2 separate regions of the Homo sapiens genome follow, and region 2 is linked to region 1. The links come from fine-mapping of genetic effects on gene expression. A gene starts in region 1. The other region holds a variant in brackets. All regions are shown on one strand. Distances are between the middles of the regions.

The links. PIP is the estimated chance that this variant, and not a neighbour inherited with it, causes the effect.
Region 2: its variant is fine-mapped to the expression of ARID1B in whole blood (TOPMed, PIP above 0.99).

The regions. Positions count from the first base shown.
Region 1 is chr6:156,773,118-156,781,788 of GRCh38, forward strand. It overlaps ARID1B (AT-rich interaction domain 1B), which reads left to right and starts at 4,261. Exons shown (of 20, transcript NM_001374828.1): 1 at 4,261-6,354. The coding sequence starts at 4,564. It overlaps MIR4466 (microRNA 4466), which reads right to left and starts at 6,614; the gene lies at 6,561-6,614. LOC115308161 (a long non-coding RNA gene) reads right to left here and starts at 5,401. Exons shown (of 2, transcript NR_163974.1): 1 at 5,129-5,401; 2 at 3,243-4,314. RefSeq lists silencers at 398-692, 3,985-4,334, 4,355-4,594, 4,745-4,894, 4,965-5,034 and 4 more and an enhancer at 5,478-6,013.
Region 2 is chr6:156,613,427-156,622,097 of GRCh38, forward strand. No RefSeq gene overlaps it. Among named protein-coding and RNA genes, the nearest start is that of ARID1B, 160 kb to the right of the region's middle. The variant C/T (reference allele first, on the strand shown) is at 4,139.

The sequences.
Region 1 (8,671 bases):
AACTGCCAAGTGACTTATTTGTATACCTGATTATATATGCTTACTACCCAAATATTTATTTTGAGGAACTAGAGTGGAGTTACCTATGCAGGACCTTTAGCCAGCCAGGCAGCATGTTATCACTAAGAACGGCCACAAAGATGACTACATGATGTGATGTAGAATACTGAAAAACACTGGTAGGTGCTCAGTAAGTGATTTTCACTAATGGCAAAATGATTGAGGACAGTACTGGAAATAAAAGCAGCCATTGAACACACATTTGTCTAAAAGTTACAAGAAATTTATAAATGAGGCTGTGATAAAGTCATTCAAAAGCGGACAGTCCAGGATAAAATAAAAAGTACAATGTATTAAAATGTAGTAAGGTGTTTCTTAATGTATTTCACTGGTGTTACTATGTTTCTAAGGAATTTGGAGAGAAACTGTAGTAGCCTGATGTTAAACTTAAGGTTCTGGAAGTCCAGACTCCACAGTGGTGGGTTCCAGGTGTCAAGTCGGAGTTGTGTCAGCGGGAGGATTAGGGTCAGCTGCCCGCTAATGGCAGCCAGCAAGCCTCCGCTGCAGGAAATGCTGCGGGATGGGGAAGGTCTGAGCTTGCTTCTTTACTGGCCAAATCCCATGTGACATTGAGGGGCAGACCTTAGTAGGTATGAGTGATTGTTAATTGTTTATCTCCCCTATGAAGGACAGGACCAAGGTAATTATCTTTCATTTTCAAGGCATGGCACAAGGTAGACTCTAGGTAAATTTGTTGAATGACTACATGCAGTGTATCTCCATCCAGGTTTATTATCCCCACAATAATTTTCTTAGTAAGTTTATTAGTGCTACCGTCTGCCATAGTTCCCAAATTTGAACTATTTTTTTTGCCTAGGCTTCTTTTTTTTTTTCAAATCCTACCTAATTGATTTGCACAGTTGTTTCAAATCAAATGCTACATCCCATATCTTGCAGTGACGCAGTTATTCACTGCTAACGTCTAAATCGGAGAAGTGAAAAGGACAATTGTTTCGTGCTTTCTTAAGTCCCTGACCAAGATCAGTAGGGAAATCCCATTAGCTCTATTCATCGCATTTCTCATAAATCTAAAAGGAAAGCAAGTATCCAAAGCTTTATTCTTTAATAGTTCTTATTTGTAAAACCTTGACAGGGCTTTATTCTAAATTGCTTCCAAATTACATAAAGAATAGTTAGAAATATGATGGGCAGTGAATCGTGATAGTTTCAGTCATCGAATAAATAAGTAGAACAGTAAAAGGGGACTAATCTGAAAGCAAACAGAGTATGATGGGCTACGATGAGGCAAAAAGAACAGAACTGTGGAATTCTTAAACTACCATCTGGCTCAATCCCCTTTAAGTGGCCAAGTTGAAGAGCCTTTTATTCAGTGCCCTAAAACTTATTCAAAAGGCGCAGTATTTGAATATTAATATTTCCATACAGTAAAAAAAAAAGTCTTTTGTAACCAAAAAGGAATGTTTAACAAAATAATGGGTAATCCTCTGGCTAAACATGAGGGCGTGGGGAGCACCCTGTGGGTGGGAGGTCGGCTGGAACCCAGGGTGGCTGCGGGCAGCCTCCGGGCCTTCCCCTCATGGCTTCTTTGTGGTTAGGGTAACTTATTAAAGTTGTCATTGTGGTTTGAAATTTAGGCAAGAGGTGTAAAATTAAGGAATTCATTAGGAAAAATGAGCGCAGTGATTTCTAGTACCTTATTTCATCAAAAAGAAACAATAAGGTAGAATTGCCATATGAGATAGTTGAGGCAAGGAACACAATGGAAATTTGAACCTGTGGTTGAAATTGTGCTTTTGTGTAATGGGAACCTATTTCATCACTTTGTAACAGACCCCTGACAATTGGTGTTTTGTTTGTTAAGCCCTGGATGTTTAAATGAAACTAAACAGGCTTTTATTTTGTTTTCCTGAGGTGTGTATGAAAAGTTGAGCAAATTCGAGTGCACTTCTTATCTTCAGCAAAGATGCTTTAGAAAGGTATTTTAGCATTCTCCGTGGTTTAAAAGACAAAACCAAGTCCTGCCGGCTTTGTGTTGTGCTTCTCCTACAGGCTGCAGTGCCTTCTGTCTGCTTTAGGGTGTGGCATCTGCCATTGGGGAGGAAAAACTGGCATGTGTCGCCTTTTATAGCAGACTGATTTCATTGTGCTGGGGGCCTCTATTTTATAGTCTCTTAGTTCCAATCTTCTAGTTGACTTGCTGAAGCAAATGGAATTAAAAGAGATTTTGACTTCTCTACTAATTTTTTTTTAGTTTCACGATTTGCCAATATGAAAAAATATTTTAAGGAAAAGGGCCATAGCTGAACTTGGTGACTCATTTTCCCTTTTAGGATTAGTTGTGAAAATAAGCCACAACATATGGCTACACTTGTATGAACTGACTTTGATATATTTTATCAATTTGAAAAAATGCACTTTTAGGATGATGTGTACATACTTAGTTTGACTATGTCTAAAAGCATAAATATGTAATTGATTTTAGAATATATGTATATACACACAAAACAGACATATATTTATATTTGCATATGAAAAACTAAAAATTCAACTTCTGTGGTGTAATGCGTATAATTAGTATGTATTTGAATATATAAAGGGAGAAAATCCAGGAAAAAATGTCAAAAAGGCACACTAACAAAGATGTAGTATTCTCTTGGCAAAAACTGATGAATGATTTGGCACGAATTCATCTTATGGTTCTGTTATTCTCTCTAACACACGATGATATATCCCGTTTTCCAGTTGTTTGCGTAGAATTGCAATTTGTTGTTTCTACACTCTATAATGACCCTTGGGTGTGCACCTGATTCCCTCCCCCCGACCCCAATTAGTCACCAGTTTTCCCATCAATCCTTTTCTATTTAGTCATGTAACATATTTACACTTGGTCAAACAAATAACCACTGCTGCAGTGGAAATGAACTAAAATAGTTTTTATGGAAAGCTGAAGAATGAAATAATTTTGGAAAACTATACTCTACCAAAACCGTAAGTATTGTTTCTGCCAGGTTTTAAATGCTTTCTCTCAATGAAAACTGAGTCCACACTAGTACAAGTGGGTCATTGCCTAAGGTTAAGAAGTCTTGCTTTTTAAAATGTTACTAGGGGACAATGCACATATTGAAAACATTAATAACAATGCAAATATTAAAAACATTATAAAATGTTAATAGACACCAATTTTTAAGAGAACAAAGTATGGAACATTTCTACATTAGGACTAGAGTTGACTGTTTTATATTATTATTGAAGTTATATTTATTAAATATAATGTCTATAATATTTTAGTTTCGTTCCACATCTCTTTGAAATGAATGTATATCGAGAGGGTTAACTGTGCACACGAAGCTCTGAAACATGATGAAAGGTGTCATATAGATTTATGAAGATACGAGCTAACCCATAGCTGTCGCTGTTCTGGCACCAAGAGTTAAATGTTCATGTGAAAGTTGGCGCAGAAAACACCACTGTACATACTCCACAGAGGACATCCAAGTGCATGTAAGAAAAATGCTCCTTTGGGAATACGTGGACATATTCCTTTGGAAATACACTGACAAACCTACATACGTGTTTAAGGTGCCTTCAAAAAGAGTTATGTAAACATTCTCTTTGGGGCGGGTGCAGTCAGTCATAAGCATTTATTGAGTACCTACTGGGTACAGGCCATAGGGCTCTCTGACCGGGGCTAACCTTCATTTCAAATCTTTCCTAATTTTGCAGTTGGAAGAAGTTGTGGGAATTACGCCGATGGCCCGAAATCAAGGCAGAGGCGAACGTTCTGAAAATTACATAACTCCTGGGAGAGACCGTGCTTTTGCAGATTGCCTAAATATTTTCTTTCTCCGTCGGCTCCTTGTAACCTCTGAGGCCAATAGACAACTTTGTTTCCCAGCCCTTCTCCCTCTTTTGTCTGCTCGTCAGACTCGTTTTCCACCTTTGTATCGTTCCTTTTAGACGTGAAAACAAACATGCGAACGCCCGGTTGGCAAGGAGACAGCGGCCCGGGGGGAAAGTGCAGGTTCCGGCCGCCCCACGCCGCCGCGCTCCGAGCGGCCGCCGAGCCGCCCCGGCCCCGGCCCCGGCCCCAGCCTTAGCCCAAGCCCGGCTGGGTCCCGCGAGGCTGCGCCGGGGCGGGCGGCGGCGGCCCGGGGACGAGTCCAGTCCGCGTTTTGCGAGTGCGCGGGAGTAATGCGAGCGAAGTGGATAATAGTTGCTCGAGCTCGCCCGCTGCCTCTCAAGCCATGCTGGGCCCGATAGGCTCAGCTAGTCGTGTATTTACCCATATCCGGGCTAGAGAGGAAAAGAGAAAAGTTTCATTTAAACCTGAACTAAAAACTTTCACCATGAAAGCACACAGCAGGAGCAGGCCCAGAGCGTAAGGCGTGCCCGGCCCGGCGCTCCGGCGGGGCCTGCGGAGGGGGAGGGGGTCGCGGCTTCCCGGCGGGCCGCGTGGATGCGCACAGGAGGGGCCGCGGCCTGAAAAGTGGGGGTTATTGTCTCCCCCCGCCCCCCGCCCGGCCTCGCCACGCCGCGGCGATCATGGCCGCGCGGGCAGCAGCGGCGGCGGCGGCGGCGGCGGCGCGGGCGCGGGCGCGGGCAGGCAGCGGCGAACGGCGGGCGCCCCCCGGGCCGCGGCCGGCGCCCGGAGCCCGGGACCTGGAGGCGGGGGCGCGCGGCGCGGCGGCGGCGGCGGCGGCACCGGGACCCATGCTGGGGGGCGGCGGCGACGGCGGCGGCGGCCTGAACAGTGTGCACCACCACCCCCTGCTCCCCCGTCACGAACTCAACATGGCCCATAACGCGGGCGCCGCGGCCGCCGCCGGCACCCACAGCGCCAAGAGCGGCGGCTCCGAGGCGGCTCTCAAGGAGGGTGGAAGCGCCGCCGCGCTGTCCTCCTCCTCCTCCTCCTCCGCGGCGGCAGCGGCGGCATCCTCTTCCTCCTCGTCGGGCCCGGGCTCGGCCATGGAGACGGGGCTGCTCCCCAACCACAAACTGAAAACCGTTGGCGAAGCCCCCGCCGCGCCGCCCCACCAGCAGCACCACCACCACCACCATGCCCACCACCACCACCACCATGCCCACCACCTCCACCACCACCACGCACTACAGCAGCAGCTAAACCAGTTCCAGCAGCAGCAGCAGCAGCAGCAACAGCAGCAGCAGCAGCAGCAGCAACAGCAACATCCCATTTCCAACAACAACAGCTTGGGCGGCGCGGGCGGCGGCGCGCCTCAGCCCGGCCCCGACATGGAGCAGCCGCAACATGGAGGCGCCAAGGACAGTGCTGCGGGCGGCCAGGCCGACCCCCCGGGCCCGCCGCTGCTGAGCAAGCCGGGCGACGAGGACGACGCGCCGCCCAAGATGGGGGAGCCGGCGGGCGGCCGCTACGAGCACCCGGGCTTGGGCGCCCTGGGCACGCAGCAGCCGCCGGTCGCCGTGCCCGGGGGCGGCGGCGGCCCGGCGGCCGTCCCGGAGTTTAATAATTACTATGGCAGCGCTGCCCCTGCGAGCGGCGGCCCCGGCGGCCGCGCTGGGCCTTGCTTTGATCAACATGGCGGACAACAAAGCCCCGGGATGGGGATGATGCACTCCGCCTCCGCCGCCGCCGCCGGGGCCCCCGGCAGCATGGACCCCCTGCAGAACTCCCACGAAGGGTACCCCAACAGCCAGTGCAACCATTATCCGGGCTACAGCCGGCCCGGCGCGGGCGGCGGCGGCGGCGGCGGCGGCGGAGGAGGAGGAGGCAGCGGAGGAGGAGGAGGAGGAGGAGGAGCAGGAGCAGGAGGAGCAGGAGCGGGAGCTGTGGCGGCGGCGGCCGCGGCGGCGGCGGCAGCAGCAGGAGGCGGCGGCGGCGGCGGCTATGGGGGCTCGTCCGCGGGGTACGGGGTGCTGAGCTCCCCCCGGCAGCAGGGCGGCGGCATGATGATGGGCCCCGGGGGCGGCGGGGCCGCGAGCCTCAGCAAGGCGGCCGCCGGCTCGGCGGCGGGGGGCTTCCAGCGCTTCGCCGGCCAGAACCAGCACCCGTCGGGGGCCACCCCGACCCTCAATCAGCTGCTCACCTCGCCCAGCCCCATGATGCGGAGCTACGGCGGCAGCTACCCCGAGTACAGCAGCCCCAGCGCGCCGCCGCCGCCGCCGTCGCAGCCCCAGTCCCAGGCGGCGGCGGCGGGGGCGGCGGCGGGCGGCCAGCAGGCGGCCGCGGGCATGGGCTTGGGCAAGGACATGGGCGCCCAGTACGCCGCTGCCAGCCCGGCCTGGGCGGCCGCGCAACAAAGGAGTCACCCGGCGATGAGCCCCGGCACCCCCGGACCGACCATGGGCAGATCCCAGGTAACCCTCGCGCCAGCCGGGCCTGCTTCCGCCCGGCGGCCTCGCCGCGCCGCGAGCCTGAGTTTCTTTCTTTGCCGCGTACTTTTCCCCGTCTTCCCGCGGGGGCGGCGGGGGCGCGGCGCCCAAAGCCATCTTGACGGGCGGCCGCCTCCCGCCGCGGTCGGGGCGCCCCGGGGGCCGGCGCGCTGTCCAGGCCTGGGAGGGCTTCGCCGGGCCGGGCCGGGCCGGGTGGCTTCTACCCCGCCGGCCCGCACCCGCGTCCCCCCCCTCCCCCAGGCCCGGGAACGCGAAGCGAGATCCCGAGGCGCCACCCGCGCGGTCGCCGTTTGGGGCGGCGGGGACCGTTCGGGTGCTTTTGTAACAAATAGGCTCTCCCGGCCAGGACGGCTGGGGCGAAGAGCCACCCGATCGGTTCTGGGAGCGCCCACAATGTGCTTTAACGGGGGAAAGAATGAGGAACTTTCTCACACCTTTAGCCACAGCACGTTCCCTCTTGGCTTCCGAGGTCCAGGCAGGGAAAATAGGTTAGCTTTGTGACAAGCGAGTGGGTTTTTCCTACTTAGGGAGAGCCATTCAGAGACACTCGGTGCGGGCTTCGAGCTCGAACGTTTGCTGGTAGGAATAATAACAAAATTTACAACGACATGGAGGTGCAATATTGTAAAATACATCGATTCGTTCCTTAGAATAGCCAGGGAAATCCATTATTGGGCTTACGGGCTGCTTGCAGGGAGTCACCTTCAACAGGCAGGCTATGTGAAAGGAGCACGTTCCGGATCAATTGAACTTATTTTGATCATGGATTAGGCATGCATTTTATTCAGCAAATCCAGTAAGATAGCAGACCAGTGAAAATTGATCTTTTGGGATCGTATTTATTTGGATTTTCTTTATTTTGCTGTCACCCGAGTCCTACAGCGCTGTTAGGAAGTGTCCTGCACTCTTGCTGTTTCTTGCTAGTAGGCTGAGCCTAAAGACTGACTTGATCTCCTTTGCAAGGTTTGGAATTTGAATTGTGGAGGTAAACTGGCTGTAATAGTCTCCAGACAGCTGCCTCTGAGTTGACATCTAATCTGCCATCTGATTGGCTCCCCTCTCACCATTGGGCATTTAGCACTGCTGATGTAAATAGAAGTGCTGAGCAGTACAGTCACAAAAATTCTTGCCACAAATAATAACTGAGCTCTATTACAAGCAAATGTAAGGTTCAGTATTTAAAGCTGAAACTATTATGAATCATAGTTATTAATAAGAGGATCAAATACAGAAAAACAGTTCGCTGGTGTCCAGTATTGGGCATTTACAAAATTCAGATCTTTGATGATAGTCTTAGAATATGCACATTACATATATCATAGACTTTAATTGGAGGCTGAGGATAAGGCCATTGAAAAATAAGTAAACCACGAATTTTACCAATTTTTGGATTTGTAAAGCCTTTATAAAAGTCTTCCCTTTACAAATTCAACTATGGAAAAATTTGAATTCTGTCAGCACACGCAGCTTAATAAAACCTTAAAATTTTTTTAAGATTTTGATAGGCAGCAATATATTTTGGTGATGTGTAATTCACCTGATAAACAAGATTTAAGCTTCATTTTTTTGTGATTTATCAGTTCTGACTGTTCAAAGATATTTGTGGATGAGGAGTTTTGGTTAGAATTGACATATTTAAAAAACGAAATGAGGAAACCACATATTTGTGCAGATAACAATAATTAAAAGGGGAAAAATGAGATATTCCTGTGAAATACTAAGAATCATTTCATATTTGCTTTTGATGTGGAGAATACAGAAATGCCCCATAATCTTTTTTTTTTCTTCATTGTTTTGTTAGATTAGGTAATTTGAGCCTTGTTTGAACTGCTTACACGATGAATTAGGGAAACTATATTCTAAGCAAGTTGTGCTGGGTGTCTTTTTTTCCAAATAATTTTTCTTTCATGTTAATGCTATGAAAGTTTAAAAAATCCTAATCTGTTAGAGAGGAACAACAGTCGTTGTATGTATATTTTTATGTAACTCATTTATTTTAGGAAGAGGTATTTTAACAATAATCATACCTTAGAGACTTGTCAGAGTGAAGGAAGGGCTGAATTTAACAAATAATCTTGTGAATCCTAGGCTGAACACTGCTGTCCACTGCTTTCAGATCTTTAGTTATTGGAGTTTTGCTTTTAAGGATAATAGATTTTTCTATTCTTAATAGAAAACTTGTGATTTCAACTTGTTTTTGATTCACACGAGGAAAAACATTATAGAGAAGAATCATGGAAATAAACCCACGTAATTAATTTTAAAAAGGTTTGCTTTGTCA
Region 2 (8,671 bases), 160 kb before region 1:
AAGGCAAGTCCCTTCCACCTATGAGCCTGTAAAATCACTGTTACTTCCAAGATATAATGGGGGTACAGGTATTGGTACATGTTCCCATTCCAACTGGGAGAAATTGGCCAAAAAAAAAAGGGATCACAGGCACCATGCAAGTCCAAAACCCAGCCAGGCAGTCTTTAAATCTTAAAGCTCCAAAACCTCCTTTGACTCCATGTCTCACATCCAGGGCACACCAGTGCAGTGGTGGGCTCCACAGCCTTGGGCAGCCCCACCCCTATAGCTGTGTAGGGTACAGCCCCTGCAGCTGCTTTCAGGGGCTGGCATTGAGTGCCTGTGGCTTTTCTAGGAGCAAGTTGCAAGCTATTGGTGGATCTACTTTTCTGGGGTCTGGCAAACTGTGACCCTCTTCTCACAGCTCCACTAGGTGGTGCCCATATGTGGACTCTGTGTGAGGACTCCAACCCCACATTTCCCTTTCACACTGCCCTAGGAGAGGTTCTCCATGAGGGCTCTGGCCCTGCAGCAGACTTCTGCCTGGACATCCAAGAGAATCCATACATCTTCTGAAATCTAGGCAGAGGTTCCCAAACCTCAACTCTTGTCTTCTGTACACCCACAGGCCCAACACCACATGGAAGCCACCAAGGCTTGGGGCTTGCACCCTCTGAAGAAATAACCTGAGATGTGCCTTGGCCCCTTTAGCTTGGGCTGGAGCTGGAGTGGCTGGGACACAGGGTACCAAGTCCCAAAGCTGCACAGAGCAGTGGGGCCCTGAGCTGGGCCCAGGAAGCCATTTTTCCCTCCTAGGCCTCCAGGCCTATGATGGGAGGGGCTGCCCTGAAGTTCTCTGACATGCCCTGAAGACATTTTCCCCAATGTCACGGCTATTACCATTCAACTCCTCATTAGTTATGAAAATTTCTGCAGCTAGTTTGAATTCCTCCCCAGAAAATGGAATTTTCTTTTCTTCTACATGGTCAGGCTAAAAATTTTCCAAACCTTTATGCTCTGCTTCCCTTTTAAACATAAGTTCCAATTTCAAACCAAGTCTTTGTCAATGCTGAACATTTATATATTATAACTGAACATTTTCAGAATAAGCCAGGTTATCTTTTGGATGTTTTGTCACTTAGAAATTTCTTCTGCCAGATACCCTAAATAATCTCTCTCAAGTTCAAAGTTCCACAGATTTCTAGGGCAGAGGCAAAATGCCGCCAGTCTCTTTGCTAAAGCATATAGCATGAGTGACCTTTAATCCATTTCTCAATAAGTTCTTCATCTTCATTTGAGACTACTTCAGTCTGGACTTCATTGTCCATATCACTATCAGCATTTTGGTCAAAACCATTCAACAAGTCTCTAGGAAGTTCCAAACTTTCCCACATCTTCCTGTCTTCTTCTGAGTCCTCCAAACTATTCCAACTTCTGCCTGTTACCCAGTTCCAAAATTGCTAAACATTTCCAGGTTATCTTTACAGGCGTATCCCACTCTGCTGGTACCAATCTTCTGTATTAGCCCATTCTCACACTGCTATAAGGATACTAAGTGAAACTGGGTAATTTATAAACAAAAGAGGTTTAATCAACTCACATTTCCACATGACTGGGGAGGCCTCAGAAAACTTACAATCATGGCAGAAGGTGAAGGAGAAGCAAGGCAGGTCTAACATGGTAGCAGGAGAGAGAGAGTGCAGGGGAAACTGCCAAAACCATCAGCTCTCATGAGAATTAACTATCATGAGAATAGCATGGGGGAAACCATCCCCATGATCCACCTAGTCCCTCCCTTGACACCTGGGAATTACAATTTGAGATGAGATTTGGGTGCGGACACAGAACCAAACCATATCAAATGGGAAGAGTGGTTGAAATTAAAATATTCTAAGATGTTAGTCAAGTATTAAGTTATTAGTCAGGAAGTATGTAAATAACACTTACCTTGACACGAATATGAAGTATCATGTTACACTTTTAGGATAATCAGAAAAAAAAAAAATAGGAATAGTATGCATAGCTTCCAGTGAAATTGAAGTGCAGGGAGGAAAAAAGAGTGAAAACTAAATTAACCAATAAAGTGGATAATAGGGAAGTTAAAGCAAAGAAAAGGTAGAATAAGTGAAAAGGAAAAATTGATCTGTAATCATAATAGATCTCTATCTACCAGGTAGAAGAAAGATTCTTCAATCACTTTTTAAAAATCGAAATCTGGCTATGTGTTTCTATAAGAGATATGTTTAAAACATACTAGTAAAGAAACGTTATAAATAAAGAAATAGAGAAAAAACATGCCGGCCGGGCACAGCGGCTCATGACTGTAATCCCAGCACCTTGGGAGGCCAAAGCAGGCGGATCACTTGAGGTCAGGAGTTTGAGACCAGACTGGCCAACATGGTGAAATCCCCTCTCTACTAAAAATACAAAAATTAGCCAGGTATGGTGCCAGGCACCTGTAATCGCAGCTACTTGGGAGTCTGAGGCAGGAGAATCACTTGAACCCGGGGGGCAGAGGTTGCAGGGAGCCAAGATTTCATCACTGCACTCCAGCCTAGGCGACAGAGCGAGAGTCCATCTCAAAATAAATAAATAAAAAAGAAAAAGAAAAGAAAAAAACATGTCAAATAAATACACACCAAATGTAGGCTGGTATTGTTACATAATATAAGGCAACACAACACAATGTTAAGACGAAAAGCTTAACCAGGGAAAAGATGTTCACTACACAGTGATAAAGGGAAAGCTCATGGGGAAAATCTTCCCATCTTAAACTTTTATTAATTTAATAAAACAACCTCAGAATATATTAAATTGTTAGAATTATAAGGAAAAATAGACTGATTGAAAAACATGGTGGGAGATTCTAGCACACGTCTCTCTGAATGTTTGGTAGATTAAGCAGAATAAAAAATAGAAAGGGCCAGGGATGTTGGCTCATGCCTATAATCCTAGCACTTTGGGAGGCCGAGGTGGGTGGATCACCTGAGGTGAGGTGTTCTAGACCAGCCTGGCCAACGTGGTGAAACCCCCATCTCTACTAAAACTACAAAAATCAGCCAGGCATAGTGGCAGGCACCTGTAATCCCAGCTACTCAGAAGGCTGAGGCAGGAGAGTCACCTGAGCCCAGGAGGTGGAGGTTGCAGTGAGCCAAGATTGCACCACCGCACTCCAGCCTAGGTGGAGACTCCATTTCAAAAAAAAAAAAAAAAAGAAAGGATGTAGAAGATTCACATAGAAGGATGCAGAAGGATGGAGAACAGCATAGTTACCAAGGGGTTGGATGGATAGATAGATAGATGATAGACAGATGATAGATAGATAGATACATTACATATATACATAGATGACAGATAGATGGATAGATACTAGATAATTAGATGATAGATGATAGAGAGAGAAAATTATTTTTTAATGGTTTTTATGTATTTGAAAATAAAGTATATTTTCTAATTTGAGAATCCAGTAATTTTTTTTAATCCTGGCTGTGGGTAATATAAACAACACATAAGTGCGTCAGGATTTTGAGGTACTCTTCTCACTCTCAACAGCATTTGTCAGACTTTTATTAGAAGCATCATGTTTCACGCCACTGCACTCCAGCCTGGGTGACAGAGCAAGAACCTGTCTCTGAACAACAAACAAACAAAAAATTTTTTTAAAGAAGCAGCATCGTGTTCTGTTCAGGATACCCACTCAGAAGTGAAGGACAAGAATACAGGAAAGGCTACAGCAAAGGAACAAAGGAAACTTGAAAGTTTTGGAAAGAGACTCCTTCCATTCAAATCAGTGGCCAGGAGCTCATACAGACTTTTTTAAGAGGTTAAGATAAGAATTTGTTTACACTTTAGAACAAGATAATGGGATGTGGGAAGAATGCTCTTCACCGAGGTAAGCTCAAGCAGAAAGGAGAGGAATTTAAGGACAAGAAACATCTCTCAGAATCCAAGAAACCATGTGCAGGTAGCATTCCTGATGCCCTTGGGAACTGAGTCCCTTTTTCTGCCTCTCAGGGCCACACAACATTCCATCCATCTTCCGCTGCTCACTGCCCCACTCTCCTTCCTGTAGACCAGCTTCCTAGGTGCATCATTAGTGTGCCAGGGCCCCAGACAGCGCCCGCAGACCAAAGTCTACATGGCCTGCATTCCGGCAGCA[C/T]TCTCTCTCATTTCCTAATTCCAAATGACTGGCAAAGAGCCAAGCCATGCAAGACTTAAGTTCCCAGACAGGGCAGAGTCAGGAACGCACCCGCCCTTATCACCCAAGGCCAGGAGGAGTGGCGGATTCTAATGGTGCACGGCCGTTTACAGCAGGAAAAGCTGTGGGCAGAGAAGCTGTAATAGACCTACCCTCTACATTGAGTAACGTGAATCGTTCTACTCAATTTCAAAGAAAGAAGTAAGTATGCCATTTGCAAGAAAAGATATTAAGGTTGATAAATGAGAAGAACAGACTTAGTGGAGGAATTGTAATCACTTTGATATTCATTCAACTAGCGTTTATTAAACACTTACCGTGTGTCAGGGACTAAACCAGGCAAGGATGATACAAAGGTAGAAGGCCTGCCCACAAAGAATTCACACTGTCATAGAATACATTGCAAAGAAAAGCAATGCCATCACCTTCCCTAGAAAATGTAAGGATCAAGTCTTCTGGGGAACTTTAAATTCACTAGAGTCCAAGGCACTCCAACTATTCTTGAACGCCCCCTTGAAATGTCACTCCTCTCTTGCTTGTACGACTCTCTATGTGTGAGCCTTCGGTTTTTTGTGACTCTAGGAATAGCTACTTCATGTTAGGAAGCCACTTGTAGAAAGGCAGCTAGATCAAGCACCTTTGTATTTTGTTGTGTTTATTTTAACAAAGTTCAGAAGCCATTTAGTCAATTTTCTCTTAAAGTGTGTAGTATAGAGACCTAGGATTTACCAGCACACATGATCTAATACGACAAAGTCAGGGTGTCTTCAGCTTGTTACATTTTTACTACCATAGCCATCTGTTCTGCAGACAGAGTGCTGCTGGGTTTGTACAGTAGCCCCTTGCTCTGGGCTGCTCAGAGAGCATCACAAACATATTAGTCCTAATGCACGACTACGTTTCAGATGCTAGGAAATAAAATATTATTTTCTGGTGGCACAGAATTCGTGGGGAAAGAATCCCGGGCTCCTAATTTCCAGTCTCAAGTGAGAAACAAAAAACCCACAGCCCAGGCACTATCCCAGATCACCTGCTTCTAATTACCCCATTTTGTGGCGATGAGTTACTCATTAAGCTCAGTCTGGAGAACAGAACCAGAAGAAGCAGAGGTAAAATTTATTTTCCTTAAAAGGGTCTGGAGGGCACTCAGCGCAGTCCTGCAGGGACCCCAGCGATGACAGTCTCGGTTCCTCTCGTAGCTTCGCCACCGATAAGCTTTGGAGTGCCTCTGTACAGAGCTGGCCAGAACCCAGTTTGCTTGGGCCTTAGATTATTGGTCATAGAAACCCCTCCAAGTGGCTTGTTTGCATGCCACGTCTCTTTGATTGGTTGAGAGGGCTCAAGGGAGTTCAGTGGGAAAAGAAAGCTGGGTGCTTAATACAAATTAACTGGGACTTTGAGGAGTTCACTCACTGGAGTGTGAAATCTGATCTCACACAAGCCCATGCTGGAGCCCTTCCAGGGGGGTTCTGTTACCAAAAGCAGCAGACAAGCTGTTTTCTAGCATAGCTCCCTTATAAGCCAGCCCTGCCTGCGCACCCTGAGGTCAATGATGGAACGACGCCCAAACGGGGGCTCAGCTGAAGTGCCACTTGCCTCTCCTTGAGAAAGAACCTCCTCAGAGTTGACAGTTTTGACCATGGCTTCATTTCCACTGTTCTATTCCGAGAATTTGTCATCATGAAAGTTGTTTTTCCAAAAAGATAGATGGATTCAACTTGATGCAGAATTACATTGAATAAAGTCCACTGTACTTTCTAATTTATTTTTTCTGAGAACAGCTACAACGCATCTTACCAACCACCTTTCTGGCCAGGAAGGTCAGTGAAATGTGCCTTGAAACTTCCACATTGTGGTTCCACCGTACTTAACCGTAAGACCTTGGAAAACTTATTTAATTTACGTAAGCCTATTTCCCCATCTGTGATATTAGGACAGTAACACTACCCATCTCGTGGTTGTAGATTAAATGAGAAAATGTAGGCATCTGGCAACCACCACAGTAATAATTGTTTCAAGCAAAGAATCATCAACAAATGCTAAAACTAGTGGGTGAAGGTAGGATAGAAAGTAGGCTGGGAAGCAGATATTTACATAGCCTCAAAGAATCTCTTCAAGAGATACCAATTAATTACAAAGTGAAAAATACTAACGTTACAGAGAAGGAAATGGCCAGACATCACCCTAGTCAAGGGATCAAAATTAATGACACCCACACTAATGGACAGAGGCGTAGCACACTCCTCCTGACACACAGGATTGAGAACACAGCAGCAGAACCACCTGCCAACATTGCATCTGGATTAGTCCATTTTCACACTGCTGATAAAGACATAGCCAAGACTGGGCAATTTACAAAAGAAAGAGGTTTAATGTACTCACAGTTCCACATGGCTGGGGAGGCCTCACAATCACGGCAAAAGGTGAAAGGTACATCTCACATGGTGGCAGACAAGGGAAGAGAACTTGTGCAGTGAAACTCCACCTTATAGAATCATCAGATCTCATAAGACTTATTCACTATCATGAGAACAGCACAGGAAAGACCCACCCCCATGATTCAATTACCTCCCACTGGGTCCCTCCCACAACATGTGGACAGTGGGGGAGCTACAATTCAAGAGGAGCTTTGGGTGGGGACACAGCCAAACCATAACAGCATCCCTGAATCGAAGCATGTGGAAACACAAGATAAACTCAGATCAAGAAAGAGTGCACAACATAACTCGCCTGTCTTCTTCAAAAATGTCAAAGTTACAGCAGCAGAGAGAATAATGACCCCAATAGTACCTGGAACTTGTGGAGAAGTTAGCATGCATGGCAAAAGCATTCTTATAGATGTACTGATTACCCTGGATGAGCTAGGCAGACCCAATCTAATCACATGAGGCCTTAAAGGGGCTTTCCCAGCGGTGGTCAGAGGTCAGACAGACGTAACAACATGAGAGGAACTCAACTAGCCATTGATAGCTCTGCAGATGGAGAAATGGGCCACACGTCAAGGAATGCAGGTGACATCTAGAAGCTGGAAAAGGCAAGGAAACAGATTCCCCACCCCCTAGAGCCTCCAGAAGGGAATTCTGCCCTCCCCACACCTTTTTTTTTTAAGCCCAGGGATACCATCTTGGACTTCTGACCGACACAACTGTAAGGTAATAAACTTTTGTTGTTAAAGACACTAATTTTATGGTAAATTGTTACAGCAGCAATAGAAAACTAATACAGTCATGAAAGACAAAGAATGAGAAACAGGCCAGGTGCTGCAGCTCACGCCTGTAATCCCAGCACTTTGGGAGGCCAAGGCAGGTGGATCACTTGAGGCCAGGAGTTTGAGACTGGCCTGGGCAACTTGGCAAAACACCGTCTCTACTAAAATACAAAAACTAGCTGGTCATGGTGGCTCACACCTGTAGTCCCAGCTACTTGGGAGACTAAGGCATGAGAATCACTTGAACCCAAAAGGTGGAAGTTGCAGTGAGCCAAGATCATGCTGCTGCACTGTAGCCTGGGCAACAGAGCAAGACTCTGTCTCAAAAAAAAAAAAACAAAAAAAGAACAAGGAACTGTTGCAAATTAAAGGAGGCTAAAGATGCATGACAACTAGATACAAGGTGTGATCTTGGATTCAATCACGGATCAAAAAGAGACATTAGTGGGGCAACTGGAAAACTCTGAGATCTTTAGCACAGCAAATACTCTTGTATCAATGTTAGTTTTCTGATTTGGGTTATTGTACTGGTCATGGAAAAAAATGACCTTGTTTTAGGAAATACACACTGAAGTATTTAGAGGTAAAGGAGCATCATGTCTGCAACTTATTCTCAAATGTTTCATATATATATGTTGTGTGTGTATGTAACACACACACAACATATATACATATGGAGAGAGAAAGAGAGAATGAGAGAGAAGTGTAGTAAAATGTTAGCATTTGGTAAGTCTGTGAAGAATACACAGGAATATTTTATACTATTATTGCAACTTTTGTGTGTCTTAAATTTTGCAAAATGAGAAATTTGAAATACAGAAAAAGTAACAAATGTATGTAAAATACTTAGCACCCTCCTTGACACTCAGCAAATTTTCAGTGAATCTTGACTTTGGTTGAGCTTTCAGAGTTTAGCATCTATGCCCTCCTTGCCCATGGCAGGAGTGAATCAACGCACAGACCTGGAGCCGGACTGGGTTTCCGTCCCAGCTTTGCCACTTACTGGTTGTGTGTGACTTTGGACAAGACATTAGCCAGTCTGATCTTCAGTTTTTCCATCTATAAAAAGCCAGTAATATCTATGCCATTAGGTTGTGAGGATTCAATGAACTGATTTATGTGAAGTACATAGAACAAGGCTGGGCCAGTTATAAGTTCTGTATAAGGATCGCTTGAGCCCAGGAGTTCAAGACCAGTTTGGGCAACATAGTAAAACCCTGTCTCCAAAAAAAATAAAATAAAAAATTTAAAAAAAAAATTTAATTAGCCAGGCATGGTGGCACACA